Regions from separate parts of the Homo sapiens genome. Here all the other regions are reported to be linked to region 5. The links are microRNA targets in miRTarBase. Many come from high-throughput screens and were not tested one by one. Region 5 holds a microRNA gene; each other region holds the end of a gene's coding sequence.

The links. Region 5 holds the annotated microRNA hsa-miR-374b-3p (CUUAGCAGGUUGUAUUAUCAUU, at 2,960-2,981, shown strand). A microRNA usually pairs through its seed, bases 2 to 8, with sites in the 3' UTR of a target mRNA and lowers its output. Matches are read on the target gene's strand: a 7mer-m8 pairs with bases 2 to 8, a 7mer-A1 pairs with bases 2 to 7 and ends in A, and an 8mer does both.
Region 1: miRTarBase lists ZC3H10 as a target of hsa-miR-374b-3p. Seed matches in the 3' UTR shown: 7mer-m8 at 812-818.
Region 2: the mRNA of RFK is a reported target of hsa-miR-374b-3p. Seed matches in the 3' UTR shown: 7mer-A1 at 1,618-1,624 and 8mer at 2,140-2,147.
Region 3: miRTarBase lists MKLN1 as a target of hsa-miR-374b-3p. Seed matches in the 3' UTR shown: 7mer-A1 at 2,056-2,062 and 7mer-A1 at 1,497-1,503.
Region 4: miRTarBase lists ZC3H13 as a target of hsa-miR-374b-3p. Seed matches in the 3' UTR shown: 7mer-A1 at 757-763.
Region 6: the mRNA of OSCAR is a reported target of hsa-miR-374b-3p. Seed matches in the 3' UTR shown: 7mer-m8 at 2,936-2,942.

The regions. Positions count from the first base shown.
Region 1 is chr12:56,121,175-56,125,264 of GRCh38, reverse strand. ZC3H10 (zinc finger CCCH-type containing 10) reads right to left here. Exons shown (of 3, transcript NM_032786.3): 3 at 1-4,090. The coding sequence ends at 3,398. Among named protein-coding and RNA genes, the nearest start is that of ZC3H10, 5.0 kb to the right of the region's middle. RefSeq lists an enhancer at 3,113-4,090.
Region 2 is chr9:76,383,805-76,387,894 of GRCh38, reverse strand. It overlaps RFK (riboflavin kinase), which reads left to right. Exons shown (of 4, transcript NM_018339.6): 4 at 366-2,369. The coding sequence ends at 496. Among named protein-coding and RNA genes, the nearest start is that of RFK, 8.6 kb to the left of the region's middle.
Region 3 is chr7:131,487,001-131,491,090 of GRCh38, reverse strand. It overlaps MKLN1 (muskelin 1), which reads right to left. Exons shown (of 18, transcript NM_013255.5): 18 at 1-3,484. The coding sequence ends at 3,363. Among named protein-coding and RNA genes, the nearest start is that of PODXL, 68 kb to the left of the region's middle.
Region 4 is chr13:45,953,676-45,957,765 of GRCh38, reverse strand. ZC3H13 (zinc finger CCCH-type containing 13) reads left to right here. Exons shown (of 19, transcript NM_001330564.2): 19 at 469-3,301. The coding sequence ends at 639. Among named protein-coding and RNA genes, the nearest start is that of ZC3H13, 97 kb to the left of the region's middle.
Region 5 is chrX:74,217,448-74,221,537 of GRCh38, reverse strand. It overlaps MIR374B (microRNA 374b), which reads left to right and starts at 2,920; the gene lies at 2,920-2,991. All of the region lies in intron 5 of FTX (FTX transcript, XIST regulator), which reads left to right. MIR421 (microRNA 421) reads left to right here and starts at 3,077; the gene lies at 3,077-3,161. It overlaps MIR374C (microRNA 374c), which reads right to left and starts at 2,989; the gene lies at 2,920-2,989.
Region 6 is chr19:54,091,733-54,095,822 of GRCh38, forward strand. OSCAR (osteoclast associated Ig-like receptor) reads right to left here. Exons shown (of 5, transcript NM_133169.6): 5 at 2,936-3,625. The coding sequence ends at 3,489. Among named protein-coding and RNA genes, the nearest start is that of OSCAR, 7.0 kb to the right of the region's middle.

The DNA of each region.
Region 1 (4,090 bases), not on the chromosome of region 5:
CTCCGTCTCAAAAAAAAAAAAAAAAAAAAAGTTAGCCATTATTCTAGAAATCCCTTTTTACTTCCTGTGTAGCAAACAGGATCTTCCTCCACTGGGCAGCCCTTCAAATATTTGAAGACTTCTATTTGAAGCTTTCTCTTGCCAGCCTTTTTTTTCTAGCAACACACTGGTTTGTCAATGGCCCTCTTTAAAAATTACATTTAGAACAACACACTACTAAGTGGTTACACTTAGGCAGAACATAGAACTGCTGTATTTGTAATCTATTACCAAGGTTCTACTACCCTTATGGAGCTCCTAGAAAGATGCCTAGAACATAGCAGGCTCTTAATAAATATTTATAAATGGACATCTTGAGGGCTAAGATTCTATTTTTTTGCAGCCAACTGGAAGTCCCAGTTTGTTCTCATGTGAATTATTGCTAATATAAATCTCTAACATTGTTCCTCAAACTAGTTCAAGATCTAAGCAATTTTTTAGTGTGAGAGTGCTCCAGTGTTTTAGTCAATTCAAGTTACAGACACTTTGAATATTATTTAGCTCTTCCTGTGTTACTGTTGATAAATGGGTTTTTTACATGTTTACCCGAGTTGGGTTTTTTCTTTTTACAATAAAACATAGCCCTTGGGCTTATCACTAGAGAACAGAGATTTCTCTAACATAAATGCGCTAACCAACACTAAGTACAAGTGTTCAGTTTGATTCTACCAAATGCTACTATTTTTTTCTCATTATTTTTTAACCAGAGCCATTTGCATGGAAAAAATGCTACGATTAACTGACCCGTAATTTTCCTCTTATCTGTGATGACTTAGCAGGTGAGAGAGAGGAAAGTAGCTCCTGTAATCTGGGAACTGGCCTGACACAGCCAGGCTTCAGAGCTGTTAGGGCTGACCTGGTGCTCACAGGTAGCCAATGAGTTCTCTTGGACACAAACAATCTCACAAAACACCAGCATCAGACAAGGTCACTCAGTGACTGCGATGAAGTGAGACAAAAAACAAAATCACTACACAATTTTGTTTAAGCACAAAACAAGGTCAGTGTGCAAACCACAAAACAGCAAACATCCCCTTTCCCAGCTAGTGAGTGACTTCATCATCGACTGTGCTTAGGTTCACTTGTCTGCCCTTCTTCTAGACAAGCTACCCAATTATCCTGGATTCCCTTAACAGCACCCAATCCAAAAGAACACCCACTTTCTTGAATCTTCCCCAAAATCACTTAACCAAAGTCTAAGTTCTCTAAGTCGTTCCTAACACCCTCATGCTGAGACACACCACGTTATCCCCAATGGTGAGCCCTCCCCCTCACTGCAATGAGCATTAAACCCAACTTGCTCAATTACCAGGTGTATTCTTGGTGGTCTTCAGCTGGAGTAAATACATACAAGACATACAATGTCTAAAATTTCCCAAATCTACCTCTTTGGAGATAACCTGGCAAGGAGGAAATAAAGTCAGTCAGGATTTGACTGAGAATTCATGTTGGTATCTATGGTTACATTCTTCTCTAAATGCTCTTAAACCATCTCTTTTAATAGTCTAGAATTGCCGGGCACGGTGGTTCATGCCTGTAATCCCAGCACTTTGGGAGGCTGAGGCGGGCGGATCACGAGAGATAGAGACCATTCTGGCCAACACGATGAAACCCCGTCTCTACTAAAAATAAAAAAATTAGCCGGGCGTGGTGGCGGGCGCCTGTAGTCTCAGCTACTCGGGAGGCTGACGCAAGAGAATCGCTTGAACCCAGGAGGCGCAGGTTACAGTGAACCGAGATTGCGCCACTGCACTCCGGTCTGGTGACTGGGCAAGACTCCATCTCAAAAAAAAAAAAAAAAATTGTGTCCCAAAAAACATTAAGCTTATCAATGTGTTGTTTCTAAAATCCACAATGTTAGCCCACTTTTAGTCTTTAGGCTTTTTTTTTTAATGACTGGCCTTGACCTAGCCCACCATCTCCAATCCCAGATGTGACCTGAGTGATCAACCAGACAAGAAAGCAAGAGGTAGCAGGAGACATGATGAGGGGGAACACAATCCAGGATCACTCTCTACCCCCAAATCTACTGTCCCATTAGACTAGACACCTGAGTTGTTTTCCCTACATCAGCCGTGAGCTGAGGAGGAACTGAGGTTTGACTATTGGGGCCCCTGGCCTTACTGACTTAAGTAGATTTAAAACTTCTGGTCCTATGTGGAGACAGAGGAAAGGGATGGACCCTGAGGCTTGTGTCCCTAGAAGGACTCTCTTTTCCCAGACCTCCCAAGCCTTGAAGGCTTCAGGAACTGGCCACTGAAGGGGTGGGGTAGGAGGGACATTAACTGCCATCAACTGAGCGGCAACTGCCATCAACTCAATGGCCATCAACTCCACCTGTCCTGCTCTGTTTGAATAAGGATCTGTCAACTATGTAACATCCCATCCGCATTTCAGCAAATACACTCTCCTTACTGCCTGCCCTGCTAAATGACCCTAGGAGCCCTGGTTACTGAGGCAACCTGGGAATAGCACATACAGACAGAGACCAGAAACAGATGGGACTATTTTTAAAACTAGACTGGGTGGCTCCAAAGCTTTTACCCCATAAAGTGCCTTCCCCAAAGCCCCATTTGGTCTTGTTCTGGGTCCCTACCCTTCTTCACTGGCTTCTATCCATCTTACCAAAGCTATGTGAGGCTGGGGTCTTTATCCCATTTTGGCATGAGATCTATTTACTGCTCCCATCTTCCACACAGAATAGCTAAGCAAGTTTTCACTGCCTCCATTTGTTAAAAATAATTGTTCTTTTATTTCTTTGGAAAGTAGTGGGCCCTGCCCTATGGATTTTCAGGTCAAACTAGGGTAATGAATGCTCCCCTAGTCTTTGGGCTGGAGCACTATGGTCCCAGCTTTCCCAGGGCCCAGAAGCAATTCCTGTATTGTCCAACCCAAGCAACTAGGACCCAAATTGTCTGAAGGCTCCTATCAGGCCTTCTCTCCTGACCACCCACTTCCCAATCTTTCCTGGCTTTCCCTCTGGGCAGGGTATTTTTTTCTTCTAAAACCAGTGCTGGAACCTGTGCTGTGCAGAAGAGAGGACAAGACGAGGGATGTTCCCAAATTCCCATAAGAGGACACAGCCCCTCAGTCAGTCCTTCCTCTCTGCTGGCTTCAGTCTGCACTCCTCTGCAAGCCCCCACTGTGAGGCTTGAAGATGGACAAGAGGACCCTCATAAAAGGGAGGTGAGAGAAAACACACCATCCCAACCCCTCCTCAGGACATACTCCTTGTAGTCTCTTGTCCTAGTTCTCAAGGGAGCCCTTCAGACAGGGATGGGGAAGGCTAGGTGAGTGGGCAAGGGCCCCCTGACCCCAGCCCTGCGAGGCTATACCAGGGGAGTGTCCATTAGCCCCATCAGTGTGGCATGGCCGTGATGCGCATGCTCTGGGAAGCGATAGGGTAAGTCACCATGGGAGTGGTGGTGTGGCTCATTGTGATTCCTGCCAAGGGTTGGGCCATCGATACAGCCACAGGGGCCACAGGAGCCACAGATACAGCCACAGGAGCCATGGAGACAGGTGGAGGTGCCATTCCCTGGGCAATTGTTTGAGCCAGGGCAGCTGACAGTGGCGTGATCTCTGGGGTCAAGTGTGGGGGTGGGGGTGGTGGAGCAGCAGGAGGTGCAGCATTAGTTGGGGGAGCAGCTGGAGCTCCAGCAGGGGCCACCAGTTCTTGCTGGGACACTGGACGAGGCTGTAGAGCCTGGCTGCTGAGAGTAGTGTGAGTCTGGGCAATGCCATGGTTAAAAGTGGCAACAGTGCCCACAGTGGGGGCCAGAGTCTGCTCAGTCGCTGGTGCAGTGGAGCTCAGGGTTATGACCTTGGCCTGATTGCGGAACTGAGCATTTTGTTCCAGTAGTACCTCATTGGTGGCCAGCAGGTTGCTGACCTGCTTCTTTAACTCCTCTACCCGCTTCCTGAGCATGGCATTCTCCTCCTCTAGCAGTCTGCACTCCACCCCTCGCGGTGGAGCCAAACTATATTCATATGACTCAAAATGAGGGCCATCAGGGGGGCAGCATCCACCTCGCCGGCGTTTTGGGCCTGG
Region 2 (4,090 bases), not on the chromosome of region 5:
CCTGAGTAGCTGGGATTACAGGCACCCACCATCACACCCCGCTAATTTTTGTAGTTTTAGTAGAGTCAGGTTTCACCATGCTGGCCAGGCTGGTCTCGAACTCCGGACTTCAGGTGATCTGCCCGCCTCAGCTTCCCAAAGTGCTGGGATTACAGGCATGAGCCACTGCCCCCGGCCTAGGGACATATCTTTTGTGTACCATTGACTTAGGCCTGGAAGGAGTGATGGAACAAACATTTATTGGGTATCTACCCTGTGCAGAGATACTGCCAGCCTGTGAGTTTTTAGGATTGGCTAAACAGAGTAGTAGTAAAAAGTATGTTAATGGTTTTTCATCATTTTTACCTGGTATATTCTCTCTGCAGAGTCACTTATTTCAGCAATTCAAGGTGATATTGAAGAAGCTAAGAAACGACTAGAGTTACCAGAACATTTGAAAATCAAAGAAGACAATTTCTTCCAGGTTTCTAAAAGCAAAATAATGAATGGCCACTGATGAAAAATTGTATTATTTATTCATTCACTGTTTTCTAGTGTTTCTGTGTTTATTACTGTTCAGCATCATCTTGGTTATATACTGAAAATCAAACACTTTACTACAGTTGTGAATTAGTTTAAACCGTACAATGTTGTTATCATATCATGCTTCAACTATTAAATTAAGCCCATCATATCATAGCACTAAAAAGATTGAGTTAAAAATAAGATTTAAAAAATATATATTGATTAAAATGTACCACTAGAAAGGTATTACATGTGTATAAGTATGGGTAAAAAGGCAAGTCACTAGTTTGAGATGAAAACTAAAATTTTCATGGTAAAATGCCAGCATGTATGTACTTGTGTAGTGTGTACTTCTAAACAGAGAAGGCTTATAAAAGTAAATGCATTAAGGCCAAGTGCAGTGGCTCACACCGGTAATCCCAGCACTTTGGGAGGCCGAGGTGGGAGGATTGCTTGAGCTCATGAGTTCAAGACCAGCCTGGGCAACATAGCGAGACTCCATCTCTATAAATAAAAAAAAAGGAAATGCATTAAATAGAAGGTTGATAGTTTATCATAAACCTGCGGGGAAGAAACTCAGACTTTCTATTTTTGATATTTTGTGCATTAATACATTACAAACATGAAGATGTTTGTAAAGTTTTGTTTTAGTCATTTTCTTTGCAGTCACATCATTGTACCACCTTCATTATTGTATAGAGCTGCTTCAATTCTGAGTCCTCTGGACTTCCCCTGCCTATCTGTTTGTTGTTGTTGTTGAAGACAGTAAAATAAGTGTTTTCAAATCTATATGTCTCCTTTTTGTTGGATAATGTTTCTTCTTTTTAATGGTAAATATTCTTGTTCTTCAACATTTTTCTTTGGTTCTTTTTTCCTTTTTTAGGAAAAACAAAACAACAGACTTCATCCTTAGGTTTTCTCAAGATTTAAGTGAACACATTTACACATATCAATTTCTTAAAGAACACAAAATGTTTCCTCCCTAGCAAAACTATTTAAGAGCCAATTAAACTATGAAATAGTTATAAAATTATTTTTAATATTTAAGGCCTTGAAATTATATTCCAAGGCAAATCTAAATGGGTGTAGTTGTATATGCACGATGTAATTTAATGCTAAAGAGTACTTACAGCTTGAGGGAAAAGCATAAAGTTTTAGTTAAATAGCCTTCATACTGTGGATTTTTCCTCCTACTAACTAATATGTGGGAAATTAAGATTACAGATGCTTTGGGCCCCCTCAAACAGTACATTGCTACAGTTCACTGTAGCAACAGATTTGGTGGTGATGGGGGGATAGAGGTAGAAGCAGATAGAAGGTAATTTTAAAGTTAATTTATTATGAATCATTTTCCCCTAATCTGCATAAATGAATTAGAACTGATTTTAATAAAAATATTCTGTGTAAAAAGTACTCAGAAAAACATCTAAAGCTGTTGGAGAAGAGGGACTCATATAAATAGTTGGATTGCGTTTTGCTTTTTATTTCTTTATAAAAATATGTCAAAAACAGTTTTTAATTTTAGAAATCTTATACTTGAAAGAAACCTCAATTATCAGTGGCTTTATGAAGTAAAGTTAAAAACAAACATAGGAAATGTGAAAATATTTGTGTTTGTTTTGTCTGACTAACTTGCTGCTAAATGCTATCTTTAGGTGTGTGAAAGTTCTTTGATATGTTATTGTCCTTTTACATCTTGTTAAATAGCCATTGCTTTTGAGAATCAGATAGTGTGTTGTTTAGGGGTTAATTGTGTCTATATCTTTCAAAAACTTTTATATTATGTATTATAAGAAGTTACAGTAGTACCATTTTGATTAGTCTGAATGTTTTCAGGCCTTGAAATAAATTTTGACTAAGTGATATTTTTTCTTTCCCTGTGTCAGCTTGAATCTTACTTTATGTATTTCGAATTTGTTGGCTGATTGCTACTCTTAAGTGTGTGAAGTTGCCTGAAGAGCAAGATATAGGTGGCAGCTGTAGTTCTACAACAAAGGGCCTTGCCTTCAGGATCCCCTGTGTTTTATGCCTGCAACACAGTGACTGAGGTTTATTTGGAGAGCAATCACAGGGCATCACTACTAAAGTCCACTTCCTGAGAGTAAGGGTTCCTGTTACATTTTGGAGATAGAAGAGCCAGAAGAGTATAGATAGGTCTGGGTTCCCTTGCATAACTCCTGCCCCAAAACAGAGTTCTGTAACCTTCTTGTCTTTTGCCACCAACCCCATAAGCAGCAACTTAGAACTCGTTTGCCTTTCTCTGTTGCATGCTGGTACTCTTTGAACAGTCATCCCCAGAACTCTCATCTTCCTCAACTATGGAGGCTTACAGCCTGCAGTTAGAGCTTACCATGAAACATGATTCTGATTGGGAGATGGAAGTGGAAGTCTGGTCTTCAGAGATGGAGCCAAGAAACTAACCTATTCTGCCAAAAAAGATGCCAGAAACAAATTGTAAAATAAGCTCTACAGAGATGGCAGATCCAGGGTTATCAGATATAGAATTTGAAATGACTGTTTAATATGTGTAATGAAGTAAAAGAGTAACAAAAATGGTAAAATGGCAAGGTGTTGTATAAAAATTGGGCAGCTGGGTGCTGTGGCATGTGCCTATAATCCTAGCTATTTGGGAGGCTGAAGCAGGAGGATTACTTGAGGCCAGAAATTCAAGGCTGTAGTGTGCTGTTATGGGTACTTGTAAGTAGCCACTGCACTCCAGCCTGGGCAACATAGTAAGATCCTGTCTCTATTAACATTTAAAGTAAAGTAAAAATTGGGCAGATAATTGAGAATTGTCCGAAATATATAGTTATAAAGAAAAATTGAAATTAAAAAGTCAATGGATGGGTTAAATACATATTAAACAACAAGAGAATTGGTGAACTATGAGACTTAAGTCTGTGACTGTGCTGTCAGCTCCAAATTCACCATTGATACTCTGATGTCGCTGTGACTCTACATTTCTTTGACAATTGGCTTCCTTTTAGGTCAGGTCATAAATGGAATTTGAACCCCAGGTTGTCATTTCTCAGGCAGCTCAGTAAGTCCCTGGACCTACCCTGTGCTTATTTTTTGTTCCCACGTGTATATTTGAGATAGACATACTTGACTATTGACAGAATTTCCACTTAGCTTCCCTGACCATTACAAGTGCCAAGTAGAAGCCAGGATAGTAAACCACAACAATGCTACATCTCCAGGAAAATTGGAGAGGTCATCATCAAAAATCCTGAAAGATTAGCTGGGTGTGGTGTGGTGGGCCTATGGTTCCAGCTATTCGGTAAACTGAGCTGGGAGAATAGCTTGAGCTCCTGAGTTCAAGACTGCAGTATGCTCTAATCATGCCCATGAATAGCCACTGCACTCCAGTTTGGACAACAAAGGGAGACCCTGTCTCAAAAAAAAAAAAAAAAAAAAAAAAAAAAAGCTGAAAGTTTGAGGATAGAGGCTGCTATTATATCTGTTTAGCCTGCACAGAAATTTGCTAAATCTTGGAGAATGACTATTATCAGCTAATCAAGTGATGATTTCAATTGCAGCTATTGTCTGCGATATGTAAAAGTATCAGCAAATGTCTAAGGACTGC
Region 3 (4,090 bases), not on the chromosome of region 5:
AATGACCCACAATTACCCAGTGAATTCCATGTAGTGTTAAGAATAATTGCAGGTAACTTCTTCATGTAATTACCATGAAATTGAGTATAATTTAGAGAATAAAATCAGGAACATACTCCTAATTGCTTTTTTGATCCATTAAGCATCATTCTCAATCTCTCACTAAATGCTTGGGTGCCTCAAACTAGTTTTTGTTTATAGGCTAGATTTTAAAACACTGTTTTATTATAACTCTGTTAATGTATCTCTACATAGCACTTTTAAGGCAGATGTGAAGAGATCAACTGGAATAAGCTGCCAACCATTTATATACAATATAAATATTTTGCCCAAGAATGCAGTTTTACAAGCTTAAATCACTGAGCTCTAAACCCATCAAACTTTTCTATGATAAACCAGTGACTTTTTAATGTATTCTATCAGTTTTTACTTATTAGACATGGACAGGTCTGTTTTCATATAAATGAAAATCAGGTCTAAAAGATGGCCTTGATAAGAGTTAATACTGTCTGTCAGCTTCAGCACAGAGGTAGGCATTTAAGTCTGAATTCCTTTGCTTGAATAAGAGTGATACATTCTTCAATCAATCAAACTGGCCACATGAGGTCTCTGCCATTACCAAAATAAAATGCAAATGCACTTAAGAGGTGTCTTGAAAATCAGATTATTTCTCATGAAGTACAAGCACTGAAAATAATGTTGGATATCTACTTTAATTTCTGGTTGAAAACAATGTATTATACTAGGAAAAAGGATAAATGAGGTTGAAGCTGGAGATAATACAAATGAGAAAACTGTATCCCACTTAATTTATGTGTCTAAAGTGTTAGCCAGGTGTTTCAATTAGGGATTCACCTAGGCTAGAATAATTGTTAGGTAGTAAAGCATATACACTTGGCTATATAAACAATGTACCTAAATACCAAATTCGATTATTTAAATTATAATCTATGCTGGAATTCTTGGAAATACATGTAGCTCCTCACTAAATTGTGACATGTTGTGAGCAACATGTCAATCTTGGTCATGGATATATGAAGCACTACATTCTCTGCAATCATTTCCAGCAGTGCTCCGATTAAAGCCCCACAGTACAGAGTCTGACTTTTCAATTATCTCCTCAGTACATCTATCTCACTTTGGCAAGAGCAAATGGCTCGCTATGATTCAACCCCATTTAAACATGGCGGTGAGCAAAAAATTTCAGAAATGAAGGGGGAAAAATTCTACCTAAATAAAGTGAGGGAAGATGAAATTAAAACAAACATGTTTTCCAAAAAGACTAGTAGGGAAACATTTAGGGAAAAACAAAAATAAAATTACTGAGGTCAAGAACTTAGTTTCCTCCAAATAACATTTAAGGAACTGATGAAAAAAATTACAAAGCACTGTAAAAATAAATGGTGGAGGGCAGCAGAATTTCACTTGCTTAATCTTTTTAAAGTGCCAGAATTCACACTAAGCAAAACTAGAGCTTTTAAATTTAGGAAGTCTTATTTAGCAAGCTCAAGTTCTTCCTTGTCAATCTTCTGATTTGCACCTGTCTCCACAAAAGATTTAACAGGCTATATTAGTGATATTAACATTTTATGTTCTTGTGTCACTCAGGGGAATCGTTTTATGAAACTGTTGAAGTATGTAAGCAAACTGTATTTACTTGACTGGATAGCCACTTGGTTATTCTGCAGCTACACAAGTTGGTACTTGCTGAATTATATAGCATACCTTTCACAAGTAAAGGTACAGATCAAATTGCTTAAGAAATCACTGTTGACTGCTTTGGGATGCTAGGAAAGCCAAGGAGCCCATGATTCAAGCCTAGAACTAGCAAAAATATATTTCTATCCATCCCCAAAATAAGTAAAACCATGTACTAAAGACAGAATAAAGTGGGACCTCAATGTTTCATTCCTATACATGGTACTTTTTGAAAGTGCAGGTTAATTTCTTCTTTGGTGAGGCCTAATCTTGCTACTCAGGGACATACTTGATTCCATAAAGCTATTCACTCTTAAGAGCCACTGGATCGACCGACACTTCTTAATATGAATCTGCTTTAGCATGGTGGCAGTCAGCTTCATACAACATGCTTTTTGAGCAAATGTAAGCACTAGCCAGATGTAGGTTTCCCACATTGCATTCCACAGCACATCATCAGAAGACATGTACCTCTATCTCTCACACAAAAAATTTGACCCATGGAAAAGTCCATCTGCCATACCTTGTTTTTTAATGAAAAAATATCTGAACCATTCACAAAGTCTGGTCTATGTGCTTAATGAAATGCCTGTCAGTTGTATACCACTGGACAACCACAAACCATTTCTCTTCAAAATAACAATATCCACAAGCAGATATAGAGAGACAATGTGTATAAAAATAAATGAAAGCAAAGCTCTGGAAACTCAGCCTCCTCTCTCAAATGAAAATACTACAGAGATAGCACAAGATAAACGGGAGCCCTGGTTCTGCAGAGCTCTTCTGGACGAAAGAGTCATTTTCTCCTAAAATTGCTATTAAGATATTATTCACTACTAGATCCCTCCTGCTGGTCACTTTTAGAATGGCTCTTAAAAAGGTTCTGAACTATTGTCTCCTCAGTTTAAGGTTTCTGTGACTCAAAGTCAGATGCTATTGTAATATCTACTATAAAATATATCATTATAGAAATATTATATACCAATCTCAGATAGGTGCTTGGGTCAATCTCAGGTTTCATTTTTAGTTCTATGGCCAAGAGTGCAAACTTGAGACCTCAGTTCTGCCTACTGTTTAATGTAACACAAGACAAGTCAATACAGACACAGATATCACCTTAACATACATCAACTGTCCTAGAGAACTATACACTTGTTAAGAATGAAGTAAAGAGGTGAACAAGTGACACCATTTACACGCAGTTGTGTGATGGGAGGCAAAGTGAAATAGGAAGGGAAAAGGCAGGCCAAATGACCAACAGCAACAACATTCAAAATACTTGTAGTGCTGAATCTGTTAATAGTGCTTATTTCCCCCAATTAAAAAAAAAAGAAATAAAAATCTGAAAAGGGTAAACTGCCTAATTTTTCTTTTATACTCATTAATTCTTAAAAGATAAAGTAAGAAAAAATATATATATATATATATTTAACTGGAAAGTATACCAATTTCACTTTATTAGCCTAATTTAGGAATAGGATGAGGAGAGCGGGGTTGAGGTCAGGCATGAAGGAAGAGGGTAAAAACTTGTGATGGTTAAGATCCCTTCAGAACTCTGGTGCAGTCCTCAATCACTGCAGCTTTACTGTCAGTCAGTGGAGCTGCAATCCAAAAGACGGAAAATCGACTCCTGTTTTCCATTTCTGTGTCCAGTGACTCTTCAGTTACAGTGTGATGAGGTCTACCAGGTTGCCTTTAGGAGGAGTCATGCTGTCAGGAAAGAAATTTACTAAGGTGTCAAAGAGCTGAGTTCTTTGAGCATAGGTGTGATCCACATCAGAAAAGCCTGGTGAAGAAGATACAAAGAAACATCCATTGTGTTTAAAACATGTAACAGAAAAACTAGTTGAGACCAGCAGCAATGTATTTTATAATGGAGAAATCAAATCAGGCTTCAAAACCAGGCAGACACTACTGATCTGACCCCAGTTCTACTACCTGGCTGTGGTGTGATCTTAGATAAATTAGTCAGACTTTCTGGCTTTCAGACTTTGCTTCCTCAGCTGTAAGTATGTGATAATCCTGTTTACTTCATACAGTTATTGTGCAGATTAAATGTAGTTACATGAAAAGCGTCTAGCAGAAGGACTGGCACTTTAGTTACAAATAATACTGATCTCTCTTTTTTTCCTTATTAGGTCTTTTCTCTGCTGGTCCACTGAGGAAATTCCACTTGTCTTTTCTGACTTGTTAATGCTTCTGAACCACTAAAAAAGTTTTTTAGTAACAAAAATATAATAAAATCAAAATGAAAGAGGTCTTTAGAAATTAGTCTAAAATCATTAATGTCTCTGAGACAGCTGGAAGTAGTCTCAGGGAACTGAGTGGTAACAGAGACGACTGAGGGAGATACATGTACAATATGCAGAATGGTATCTGCACATAACACTAT
Region 4 (4,090 bases), not on the chromosome of region 5:
AAGGAAAAACTATGTGAGGAAGGAACTCATGGCACTTACCTTCATAGAACTGAAGGATTGTCAAGTAAAGGTAAGATTGAATTACAGTGTAGCACCATAGAAGAGCTTTTATTCCATCACATGGAAGAAATAGTGCCATTCAACAACAGAACGTGCAGTGTGTTTTTTGTTTGTTTTGTCATTGGAAATGATAAAGTAAAAACCGGTTGATTACCTGTCAGAAATTGTTGAGAGGATTCCTACTTTAAGCAAGAGGTTAAACTAGGTGCCCTCTAAAAGTTTCTTTTCAAAGATTCATTGAGCCCAAACACATTTTCTAATTTTGCTTTGAAATCCAATAAAGCTAATTTAATATCCAAAATGAAATACTCTTATAACTTTGATATTTTGGGTAGAGGTTAACCTGCCCATCTTTCCTACTAATAATGTACATCTTTTTTAAAGTTTGTTTTTGTTTTCTTCAAATAGGGCACCATAAAACAAGCTTACACGAGTGCTCCAATGGTAGACAATGAATTACTTCGATTGAGTCTTCGGTTATTTAAGCGGAAGACTACTTGCCATGCTCCAGGACATGAAAAGACTGAAGATAATAAACTTTCACAGTCCAGTATCCAACAGGAACTGTGTGTGTCTTAAGACCGAAGTTCAATATGGTATTTTTGGTACTGTCTTCCTTCAGCAGTGCATATTCTTTTGCAAAGTTCTTTGGTTTGACAAGCATTAGTGACAAAGGCAGAAAAGATTTATCAGCCATGCTAAAAGAGTGAAGAATTTTGATCTTTAGAGACACTAGTTTTGGCCAACTTAAGATTTTACGTTAATTTTTACATAGTATTTGACACTCATGCAAAATAATGTGAAAACATCTAGATTTAGTAGTTTATTCTGCGCCTTTTGTTAAAACTGAAGATTTTGGAAAATGGTTGTCACTGCTCTTCCAGCCTATGAATATTTTTGTGAAATGGAACCATGGATTTATGTCTGGATCATCCATACAGAACCAACAATTTTATTCAAAAACAATGTGTTCATCAAAGTAATTGCTCACATTGTGCAGTACTATGTTGTACAGACCACGTGAAAGGGAATGCTGGTCTAGCTGGCGTGGTATGTTTATAGGCGAATTTCAGCAGAAGGAAGCCAAAATAGTTTTTTCCTTTTGAAAGTTTTTTAAAAATTATTTCATGGGTCTTTTTTTTAATTAATATGTGTGCATTGTTACAATGTATGTTGGATGTCTTTTGACCCTAAATGCTTTTTTTGTTATCAGAGATTGTGTACTATTTTTATTTTTAATAAATGTATCTTCCCTTTCCTTGTTTTAGATTTACTTTGCTCTTCGTTAATCTTATTCCTGATGATCTAGAACATTAGTCATCAACATTACATGTTTCATGCTTCAGATATTTTACTGCTTGTGTCCTTATTGTTGGACAGCTTTAAACAGAGTTGATGTACTTCAAATATAGCTCATTGATACTTAAGGCATCTTCTTGGAATGTGGCTTTTGAAGAAAAAAATTACTCAAAGCAAATCAAGAGTTAACAAACCTAACGTAACCTGAGGTTTAATATTCTACTATCATATTTTTTAGAGCTATAACTTTTGATTATATTAAACTGCCTCCAGCTGTACTATGTAAAACAGATTTACTTTTAAAAATTACAGTATACCTGCTTTGTTCTATATGTATATGTTTAACTCATGAAGTGGACTCTTAGAAGGATTTGAAATGGACTCTGGCCACAGAATTTGTGAGCAGACAGTAGTAGTGATAATAATAAAAGAAGGCAATCAAAATTTAATTTTATCATGCCCTCTCACAGGTTTGTGTTATAATTGTAAGCCCATATTACTTGTGTTAGTAGTTTTGTCTCTATAGGTAACATAATGACAGTGGTGTAAAGTTTCTGTTCAAGAAACATATGTTGTAAAGTTACTTTATACAAGATACCTGCCAAAGGAAATGGTCTTACTTTCAAATGACTTTGAAAGCATGTATAATTGCAAACAGAGCAGGAGAAGACTTTAATCAGAATTTCCTTGTGTCCTTTTCCTTTACTAAGTGTTTTGAATAAAGAAAAAAAAAATGTATGACCTCAGAGAATGAATACCCTTCAGGAAGCCACTTCCTGATTTTAGTGGATAATATTGTTCTCTGTAGCACAAAGATTTAAAGTCCTAGAATTTCTAATCCTAGTTCTCAGAATTGTAGAATATGACAAAAATAATGGTTTCCCCATTTGTCCACTGACTTCAGGGATATTTCACAAGTTATTTATTTATAGAATGAAAACTATGTAGTTAAATCTGTCATTCAGTTAAACCTGTTGTCTTTCAGTTTGAAATCTTTTTGTTATGTATGTTGCAAAAGAAAATTTAGAACTATTCCTTTGTTCACTCAGTCACAGCATTCAGAGCTTTATGTTTCCAGTGGAAATGTACTGTTCAGTCTCAATTTCTTTTAATTCAACCATTCTCAGTATTAGTAACATATACCTATAAAATTTTTCTAAAGCAAAATTTTTGATTGAATTTCTCATAAAAGCTCTTGGACCATAATTAAAGTCTCAGTTAAACTGGTATTCCCGAAAAACAATCTTCCAGTCTATAAATTGTTTGCTAGTACAATTAAAAGGTCATCTATCTCATAACTGACGGCTCAGGTCTGTCCAGTTGCCATAATTGCACAACTGGATTCCAGCTGCTGGTAATAAGGAATTGTGTAGATAGATAAAGGGCAAGAGTATGTCTGCAATCCAAAATAAATGAGAGTTAACACATAATTAGCCTTTTGATTATTTTGGCAGCTATCCTCACCATTTAGTAAAGGGTATACTAACAATACCCAACTTTATTTAACAAAGTTTTGTAAGCATACCTAAGTAGTAACTTGATATGCTGAAAAATCTGACCTGTCACTTCGCTTCACTCTGACCAGTAATTGCAGATTGTCGTCACCATCCTAGCCTATGACTACATTAGGATTTTATGACTTATTAACTTGAAAATCTGTTCTGTAAGTGGCATTGGTAGAATCTCCCACTTTGCTCCTCACTGTCCAATTGTGTAAAGATTAAGGTACATACTATTGTTGGTGATGCTTTTACACCTCAACTTGCTATTTTAAAAGGTTATATGAACCCCTCCCACTTTTAAGGATATTCCCTTTTACTGATTTTCCTAGCTAAAATTATATAGCCATCTTTCTAAATATTGTATTTAAATCTGATCTAGGACTTGCCTTATTTTATCATTTTTCTTTAATAATCTCCAATAAACTTTCTTTATTCATTAATTTTGTTGATCTTTCCATTTCAGTATTTTGAATGACACTCTGGGGAATCCAAGTTTAAATGGTGAAATATTTTTATTAAATAACTTTCTACATGCATCTGTAAACATACTTTCTCAACTTTATTGAGCTGTTTCTTTCATATTTTTTTTTCTTTTTTAAATTATTTTTATAGAGATGGGGTCTTGCCTGGGCTGGTCTCAAACTCCTGGCTTCAAAGCCATCCTCCCGCCTTGGCCTCCCAAAGTGCTGGGATTACAGGCATGAGCCACCATGCCCAGCCCTTTTTTTTTTCAGAGGCAGGGTCTTTCTCTGACCCCCAGGCTGGAGTGCAGTGGCAGGATCATAGCTCACTGCAGCCTCCAACTCTAGGGCTCAAGGGATCCTCCCACCTCAGCCTCCCAAGTAGCTGGGACTACAGGTGTGCATCATCATAACTGGCTAATTTTAAAAAGAAAAATTAAAAAAACACTTTGGTAGGCCAAGGCAGGAGGATTGCTTGAGCCCAAGAGTTCAAAACCAGCCTGGGCAACAAAGTGGGACACCATCTCTGCAAAAAATACAAAAATTAGCCAAGTGTGGTGGCACGTGCCTGTAGTCTTAGCTACTCAGGGAGGCTGAGGCAGGAGGATTGCTTGAGCCCAAGAGGTTGAGGCTGCAGCGAGCTGTGATGGCGCCACTCCATTCTAGCCTAGGCAACAGTATGATACCCTGTCTCAAGTTTAAAAAAAAAAAAAAAAGGTGGGGGGGGGATCTTACTATGTTGCCCAGATGATCTCAAACTCCCAGCTT
Region 5 (4,090 bases):
TGTTTTTAGCCTTTGTCCACAACTGTGGGAGTCACCATTCACTCTGTGACATAGGCTCTCAGAATGATGGCTCTCTTGACTGTGGCACTGATCATAGATTTAGAAGCTCCAGTATGGGAGGACCTTAAAAGTCTCCTATCCCAAATAGATTATTTTAAACTAACCCCAGTTCAAGTCCCTGGATAACATACCCAACAAATGGTCTTTTAACTTCTGAGTAAGTTTACTTGGTAACTGGGGACTCCTCCTTGAGTTAGCTTGTCCCTTCTTTTGAGACCTCTTTACAACATTGAGCCCCAAAATGTTTTTCTATAGCTTCAATTCATTCAGCATATTTGTATTGTACCACTACTCAAGAACATTGCTTTATTCTCACTCCTGCATATTCAGCATCTCTCCTCTCTGCTGTCATTTGAGCTGCCAGGCACTGTGCTGGGTAGTGGGGATATGGAGATGAATTAGACACCATCCCCGTCCTCAAGGAGTTCTCAGTCTAGTGAGAGAGATCAACATCTATGTACACATATAATTACAACAATATGGTATGCTCTACAATGGAGGTATGTATAAGATACTCTGGAGTTCAAAGAGAAATCATTTTACAGAGTCTGGAGATGACAGAGCTCAGAGTACCTGGTATATGAGTTGAGTCTTTAAAGAAGTAAAGTCACCTTTTGACTAGGTGAAAAACAGGGAAAGGCTTTCCAAGCAAAAGCATGGACATTGGAAGTAGTATGATGAGTTTGGGGAACTACAAATAGTTCTCTAAATTAGGTTGGAAATGTAGGCCAGGAATAGAACTTTATATGGTATGCCATGGGATTTGGATTTCATTATAAGTGTTTTCAGAAAGGGATGCTTTTAGATGATCACTGGCAGTAGTGTGGGGTGTGTTCAGGAATGTTTTCAAATCTGGACAGGGAGATGAGTTAGAAGGATACTGTGGTGGCTAAGATGAGAAATGATGTAGGGCTGAAAGGAGTGGGAGTGGCGAAGAGGGGATAACCTCTTAGGAAGTTATAAAAATTTAGTCATGCATTGCTTAGCAATGGGGATATGTTCTGAGAAGTGTATTGTTAGGCGATTTTGTCATGTGAACTTCATAGAGTATATTAACACAAACCTCTCTAAATGGTATAGCCTATTACACACCTAGGCTACAAACCTGTACAGCATATGACTGTACTGAATACTGTAGGCAATTATAACAGAATGGTAAGTATTTGTGTACCTAAACATATATAAACATAGAAAAGCTACAGTAAAAATATGATATGATTTTGTGGTGGGACAACTGTGGGACAACTGTCATATATGAGGTTCATCATTGTCCTAAACATTGTTAGGCAGCACATGACTGTATAGACATAATAGAACTTATAGGAAAAGTTATAGAAAAACTTATAGAAAAAGACCTTGATGAAAAATACTGTCATATTCTTTGGATGAATGTTGCAATTAACTCCTTTTAGATCATAACTTGACTGTACAGATTGTGCAAGATTGTTTTCTGGGAACAGCTGTATATGAAATGTTGATTCTCAGGGAGACACCTAGACACCTGAATTGCAGCAGACATTTTATGGTGTTGCTAAGTTGCTGGTCCTTCTCATCAGTAGCAGGCCTACTCTCACTGTCACATATCTCCCACGGTTTTTTTTTTTTTTTTTTTTTTTTTTTTTGTAATTAACCAAAAGTGAAGGCTTTTATATCAAAGACTCAATTGAGGAAGCAGTGGCCTTAGTCATTATTGGCATAATTGCTTTAGTTTGCTTATGGATCTTAAAACGTTTATGACTATATCTGCAAGTAAAAAAAAAATTCAATAATTAAAAACCTAAACATATCGAGTGTTTATTTTCTCTTTTTGCAAAGGTATATTCTAAACTCAATGTTCTTCGGGAAATTTTCCAATTAAGGCTCTGAGTATTGATATTTGGGATTTAGAGAATGGCTTTCTATGACCAGAATGGTTAGTGATGAGATTTTATGTAAGTAGGACTGGGTTTTTCAGGGGGCCTTGTGTAACTTGCCATCAAGAGTTGGGAAAGGAGGCCCTGAGCAGTGCAGCAGAGCTATGTAAAGTGAGAGTTTGGGTCTTGGGACCAGGTAGCCTGGGCTCAAATCTGCTCTCACACTTAGCAATGTGGTCTTGAGCATGATTCTTCACTTCCCCAGGACTCTGTTTTCTCTTATGTAAAATAGGAATAATATTTATTTTCAATGATGGGGGTAAAAAGTACTTAAAGGGACTAATTATGTAAATTGCTTAGAACAGGCCTGGAATATACAGCTAAATGCTGTGTCAACTGTTGTTGCTGATAATGGTGTTGACTATGACAAGTATTAAAAGAAGAGATTTGACTAGAGGTACTTATATTTTGAATGATCAGTGACGATGTTAGGGTTGAGAAAGAAAAACAGTAACTGACTTGAAGGTTTTCAATGGTATGTAAGTGTGAGGTCATTTCACCTTTTATTTCTCTGCCAGGTAGAGTGGGAAACCAAATTAATCACTCCATGATCTAGTGACTAATCTATTGCCTTTGCTTTTAGTTCCAAATAGAAAGCTGTTGAAAAGTTGTTGTATTACACCTGCATAAAGGTTATCCTGAAAACAGAAAAATGCATTAGACTTTGTCAAAACTGGATTTGAAACCTAATTCAACTGCTTGCTGGCTGTGTGACTTAAACTTGTTGAACTTCAGTTTCTTCCTCTAATATAACTATTAATTTTCAGAGTTTCCATGAAGATATTTGTAAAGTGTTTGTCATAGGCACTCTATACATTAATTACAGCTATTATTGTTAGATCTTGGGACACCCAGCACGTGACAAAAACAACAGCAGACCCTGGTGCCTGGGAGGACTTCATGGATCCAGCAGCAACCTGGAGTGGTGCTCCTCTGAAGAAATCCTACTCGGATGGATATAATACAACCTGCTAAGTGTCCTAGCACTTAGCAGGTTGTATTATCATTGTCCGTGTCTATGGCTCTCGTCTACCAGACTTTAAATTCCTTAAGGGCAAGGACAGTGCCTTACTCATCTTTGTATTCACAGTGCCTAATCCGGTGCACATTGTAGGCCTCATTAAATGTTTGTTGAATGAAAAAATGAATCATCAACAGACATTAATTGGGCGCCTGCTCTGTGATCTCCATGGGCTCAGCTTGTCCCCGCCAGTTGCCAACAACGTCCAAGCTCTCTTCAGAATGCTTACTCCTGAAGCTTATTCCTGTCTTCTAATTCTTTTGTTGAGGACTTTTCTGTGTAGTGCAATGATAGCAAATACACTTCATCTCAAGTACCATCTCCAATTGATTGATAATGCCTGCCCTGATTATGTTTTATAACAAGATTCTGAAACCAGGTCTTATCTCAGTGTGAAAGACATTTATAACTATTTAGTGATGTCTGCTGAGGGTCGGAGAAGGGGGAGTAGCAGCACAAGTGCCTCATATGTCATATTTGCTACTCTGTTTTCTATGAAATACTTCATTTCTATGCCTGCATTTTGGTCTTAGCTACTTGCTGATGTTGCATGGCTGTTGCTGCTACTGTAATTGCTGCTAATTGCTCCCTGGGTTGGACCAGAGTGCTCATTGTCTGAACAGAAACCTCATCCTCACAGTCTGAGGTTTGCTCCTGTGGCTGATATTTAAAGTTTTCCCCTTTCAACTTTACTCCAGCTATCCCCTTACCTGCACTGACAGGTAATCCTCCACCGTCCTGTTCACCTCTCACCAGGTTCATATTTTCTTTATCTTATTTATTGTACTTAATCATTATTTTGTGAGAAGCTTTTCTGATTGTAGATGTGACAACCAGAATACAAGTTAAAACCACTTATCCAGCGCCTTACAGTGAATCATTTAACATGAGAAAAAAATTGAGTGTGTTTGCAGACCATGGGGCAGAAGGAATTGAGAAGGGAGTCATTGTAGATGTGAGAAAGAGAGAGATGATAATAGATGGAAGATGATCTTGAAAGATGATGCAGGTGAAGCTGGAAGGGTGAAATTTATGGCTCTAGAACACATGCAGGTGGAGGGTTAGCCTTAGGTAAGTGGAACTACCTCTTTGCTGG
Region 6 (4,090 bases), not on the chromosome of region 5:
CCATCCTGGCCAACATGGTGAAACCCCATCTCTACTAAAAATACAAAAGTTAGCTGGGCGTGGTGGTGGCACACGCCTGTAATCCCAGCTACTCGGGAGGCCGAGGCAGGAGAATCGCTTGAACCCAGGAGGCGGAGGTTGCAGTGAGCCGAGATCGCGTCATTGCACTACAGCCTGGCAACAGAGCGAGACTCCATCTCAAAAAAAAATAATAATAATAATAGTAATAATAAATTGGCCAGGCGTGGTGATGGCAGTGTTGTCATTGCTTTAAGAGGCAGGAACAGGGGGAAAAGACCCAGCAGTCTAACCACACAGACAAGTCCCAAGTTAAGCACTTCTGTGTGACTTGGGGGCTGTTGATAAAGATCAGAAATAACCTATGTGGATCACCCAGCAAAATGACCAGTATGAAAAGATGTTCAGTGGTAGAAAATGAAATAAGCATTGTGACTACAACTCACTCAATAAGCATTCATTGAACACTGGTCACTGGTAAACTGCTATGAAGAAATCTCAGCTGGGTGCAGTGGCTCACGCTTGTAATCCCAGCACTTTAAAGGGAGACCAAGGTGGGCAGATGGATCACTTTAGGTCAAGCGTTCGAGAACAGCCTGGCCAACATGGTGAAACCCCATCTCTACTAAAAACACAAAATTAGCCGGGCATGGTGGCAGGTGCCTGTAATCCCAGCTACTTGGGAGGCTGAGGCAGGAGAATCGTTTGAACCCGGGAGGTGGAGATTGTAGTGAGCTGAGATCACAACACTGCACTCCAACCTGGGAAACAGAGCAAGACTCCATCTCAAAAAGAAAAAAAATCTCAAGCTTATTGGATAGATAAATGCACAGGTAGATAGATGGATATTGAATGAATAAATAGTTCAGTGGATTAAAAACTGGTTAATGAAGAAATGGATGGGTAAATGGATGGAAATATGAATGAATGCATGATGGATAAGGACAAATGAAATAGACAAATGTACAAATGAAAGCAAAGGAAAAAGAGATGCTCAATAGAAATGAATAAGGATGAGAATCAATGCTAGACATGAATGAGTGAATGGTGAATGAAGGAGTGATTGAATGGATGAATACATGGAGTTAAGTTGAAGTACAAACTCGGCCAAGACTTCTTTTTCTCTGCTTTGGGTGGAAATACATTTTAAAAAAAAGAGGGCCGGGCACGGTGGCTCATGCCTGTAATCCCAGCACTTTGGGAGGCTGAGGCGGGCGGATCACCTGAGTTTGGGAGTTCGAGGCCAGCCTGACCTACACAGAGAAACCCTGTTTCTACTCAAAATACAAAATTAGCCAGGTGTGGTGGCTCACACCTGTAATCCCAGCTACTCGGGAGGCTGAGGCAGGAGAATCACTTGAACCTGGGAGGCGGAGGTTGTGGTGAGCCGAGATGGCGCCATTGCACTCCAGCCTGGGCAACAAGAGCGAAAGTCCACCTCAAAAAAAATAAAATAAAATAAAATAAAATAAAAAAAGAGGGAAAAAGGAAAAAAAAAGACTCCCTGATGTGCCACTGACTTCCTGTACATGTTTAGGTAAACTTAATATCACCTCTCTTTCCACCATTTTCCCATTTATAAAGTGGGAAGACTGGATTTGATGACATCACAGCCTCATCCAGGTCTGGTGCCTTCCTTATAACCTGCGTCTCTTCTTTATTCTTTTTTTTTTTTTTTTTTTTTTGAGACGGAGTTTTGCTCTGTCACCCAGGCTGGAGTGTGCAGTGATGCAATCTCGGCTCACTACAACCTCCGCCTCCTGGGTTCAAGCAATTCTCCTGCCTCAGCCTCCCGAGTAGCTGGGATTACAGGCGCCCGCCACCATGCCCGGCTAATTTTTGTATTTTTAGTAGAGACGGGGTTTTACCATGTTGTCCAGGCTGGTCTCGAACTTCTGACTTCGTGATCCACCTGCCTCAGCCTCCCAAAGTGCTAGGATCACAGGTGTGAGCCAGCACCCCCGGCTTATTCCTTTTTTAAAATTGTTATTATTTCCCACAGCCACATATGCCGGGGAGGTTGTCCCACATATGTTCTACCAAGGCCCCTCTGGCACTGAGATCAAACCCCGGAAGACCCGCTCAGTCTCTCCTCCCGTCTTTTCAACACGTTAGCGCCCCCAGGTGGCTAATTAGACTTCAAAATTCAGTTCTTGAGGCGGGCGGATCACTTGAGGTCAGGAGTTCAAGACCAGTCTGGTCAACATGGTGAAACCCCGTCTCTACTAAAAATACAAACATTAGCCGGACATGGTGGTACGCACCTGTAATCCCAGCTATTCGGGAGGCCGAGGCAGGTGGATCACTTGAGGTCAGGAGTTCGAGACCACCCTGGCCAATTTGGCAAAACTCCATCTCTACTAAAAATACAAAAATTAGCTGGGCGTGATGGCGCACACCTGTAATCCCAGCTACTCAGGAGACTGAGGCACGAGAATCACTTGAACCCGGGAGGCGGATGTTGCAGTGAACCGAGATCACGCCACTGCACTCCAGCCTGGGTGGAGTGAGATCTTCTCTCAAAAAAAAGAAAGAAAGAAAGAAAGAAAAAGTCGTGCTTGATTATGCTTGATGGCAAAAAGGTGAGACCTTCCTTTCGGCACTGAGTCTGGTAGAAATCGGTGTTACAGGGTAGCTAACATTTATTGAACACTTACTACGGGCCAGTTACTGCTTTAAATGTTTTATGTGTATTACCCACTGACTCCTACAACAATCCTATGAAGTGGGTTTTATCAGTGCATCCATTTTACCGTCAAGGCAAGAGAGAGTTGGGGAAGGGCGCTTTCTGAATGCTGCTACCGTGTCCAGAGTTGGTTCCTTCCTGTGGGTTTGTGGTCTCGCTGACTTTAAGAATGGAGCCAGGGACCTTCGTGGTGAGTGTTACAGCGCTTAAAGATGGCACGGACCTAAAGAGTTAGCAGCAGCAAGATTTATTGTGTAGAGCAAGAGAACAAAGCTCCCACAACGTGGAAGCAGACTCTGGTGGGGTGCCGCGCTCGCCAGCTTTTATTCCCTTATTGTCCCCGCCCGTGTCCTGCTGATTGGTCCATTTTACAGAGCGCTGATTGGTCCATCTTACAGAGTGCTGATTGGTCCATTTTACAATCCTCTTGTAAGACAGAAAAGTTCTCCAGGTCCCCATTCAACCCAGGAAGTCCAGCTGGCTTCACGTCTCACTACTACCTTTCTGTAGCTGCTACTACTACAGTGAGTAGACGGCAGTGCTGGGATTCGAACCCTCTGTCTTCTGGCTTGGAAGTCTTAACCACTAATCGCGTCTTCCTTTCAGCTACTCCTTGGGAAAGGCCTGGAAAGAAGCTACAGCACAGGGCACAGCGGGGTCTAAGGACCGTTCCGCGGAGCTCAGCCAGCAGGACTGTGGGGCTGCAGGAAAGGACAGTCCAGCCCAGGGTCCCAGCTTCTCCGCCACTCAGGTTGGAAGTCTCGGGCTGCAGTGCTCCTGGGGCTCAGGGGCGGATACCAGCAGGAGCGCGGTTCTGACTGCGCCAGTCAAAAGTGACCAGCGCGCCCAGGGAGATGAGGACCAGCCCGGCCAGCCCCAGGCGGACTAGGTTCCCCCGGGTGTAGTCGGAGGAGCCAGAGTCTGCGGGCGGAGCCGGGAGAGAGGGGCCATCAGCTCCCGGACCCCAAAGTCTGGGCCCTGAACTCCAGGTTTCCAGCCCCTGGGGTGGACTTAGGGACCTGACTCTACAGTCTCAAAGTTGAGGGGGAGTCGATGGAGGCTTCAACTCCTGGGTCCAGGAAGAAGGGGCTGGGGCCTGGACTGCTGGATCAGGAAGGAGGGGCTGGGGGCCTGGAGTCCTGGGTCCAGGAAGGAGGGGCTGGGGGCCTGGAGTCCTGGGTCTGAGGGAGGAGGTACTGGGGCCCGGGAATCCTGGGTCTGAGGGAGGAGGAGCTGGAGGACTAGACTCCTGGATCTGAGGGAGGAGGGGCTGGGTCCCAGGAATCCTGGGTCTGAGGGAGGAGGGGCTGCAGGACTAGACCCCTGGGTCTGAAGGAGGAGAGGCTGGGGGCCTGGGCTCCTGGGTCTGAGGGCGGAGGTCCTGGG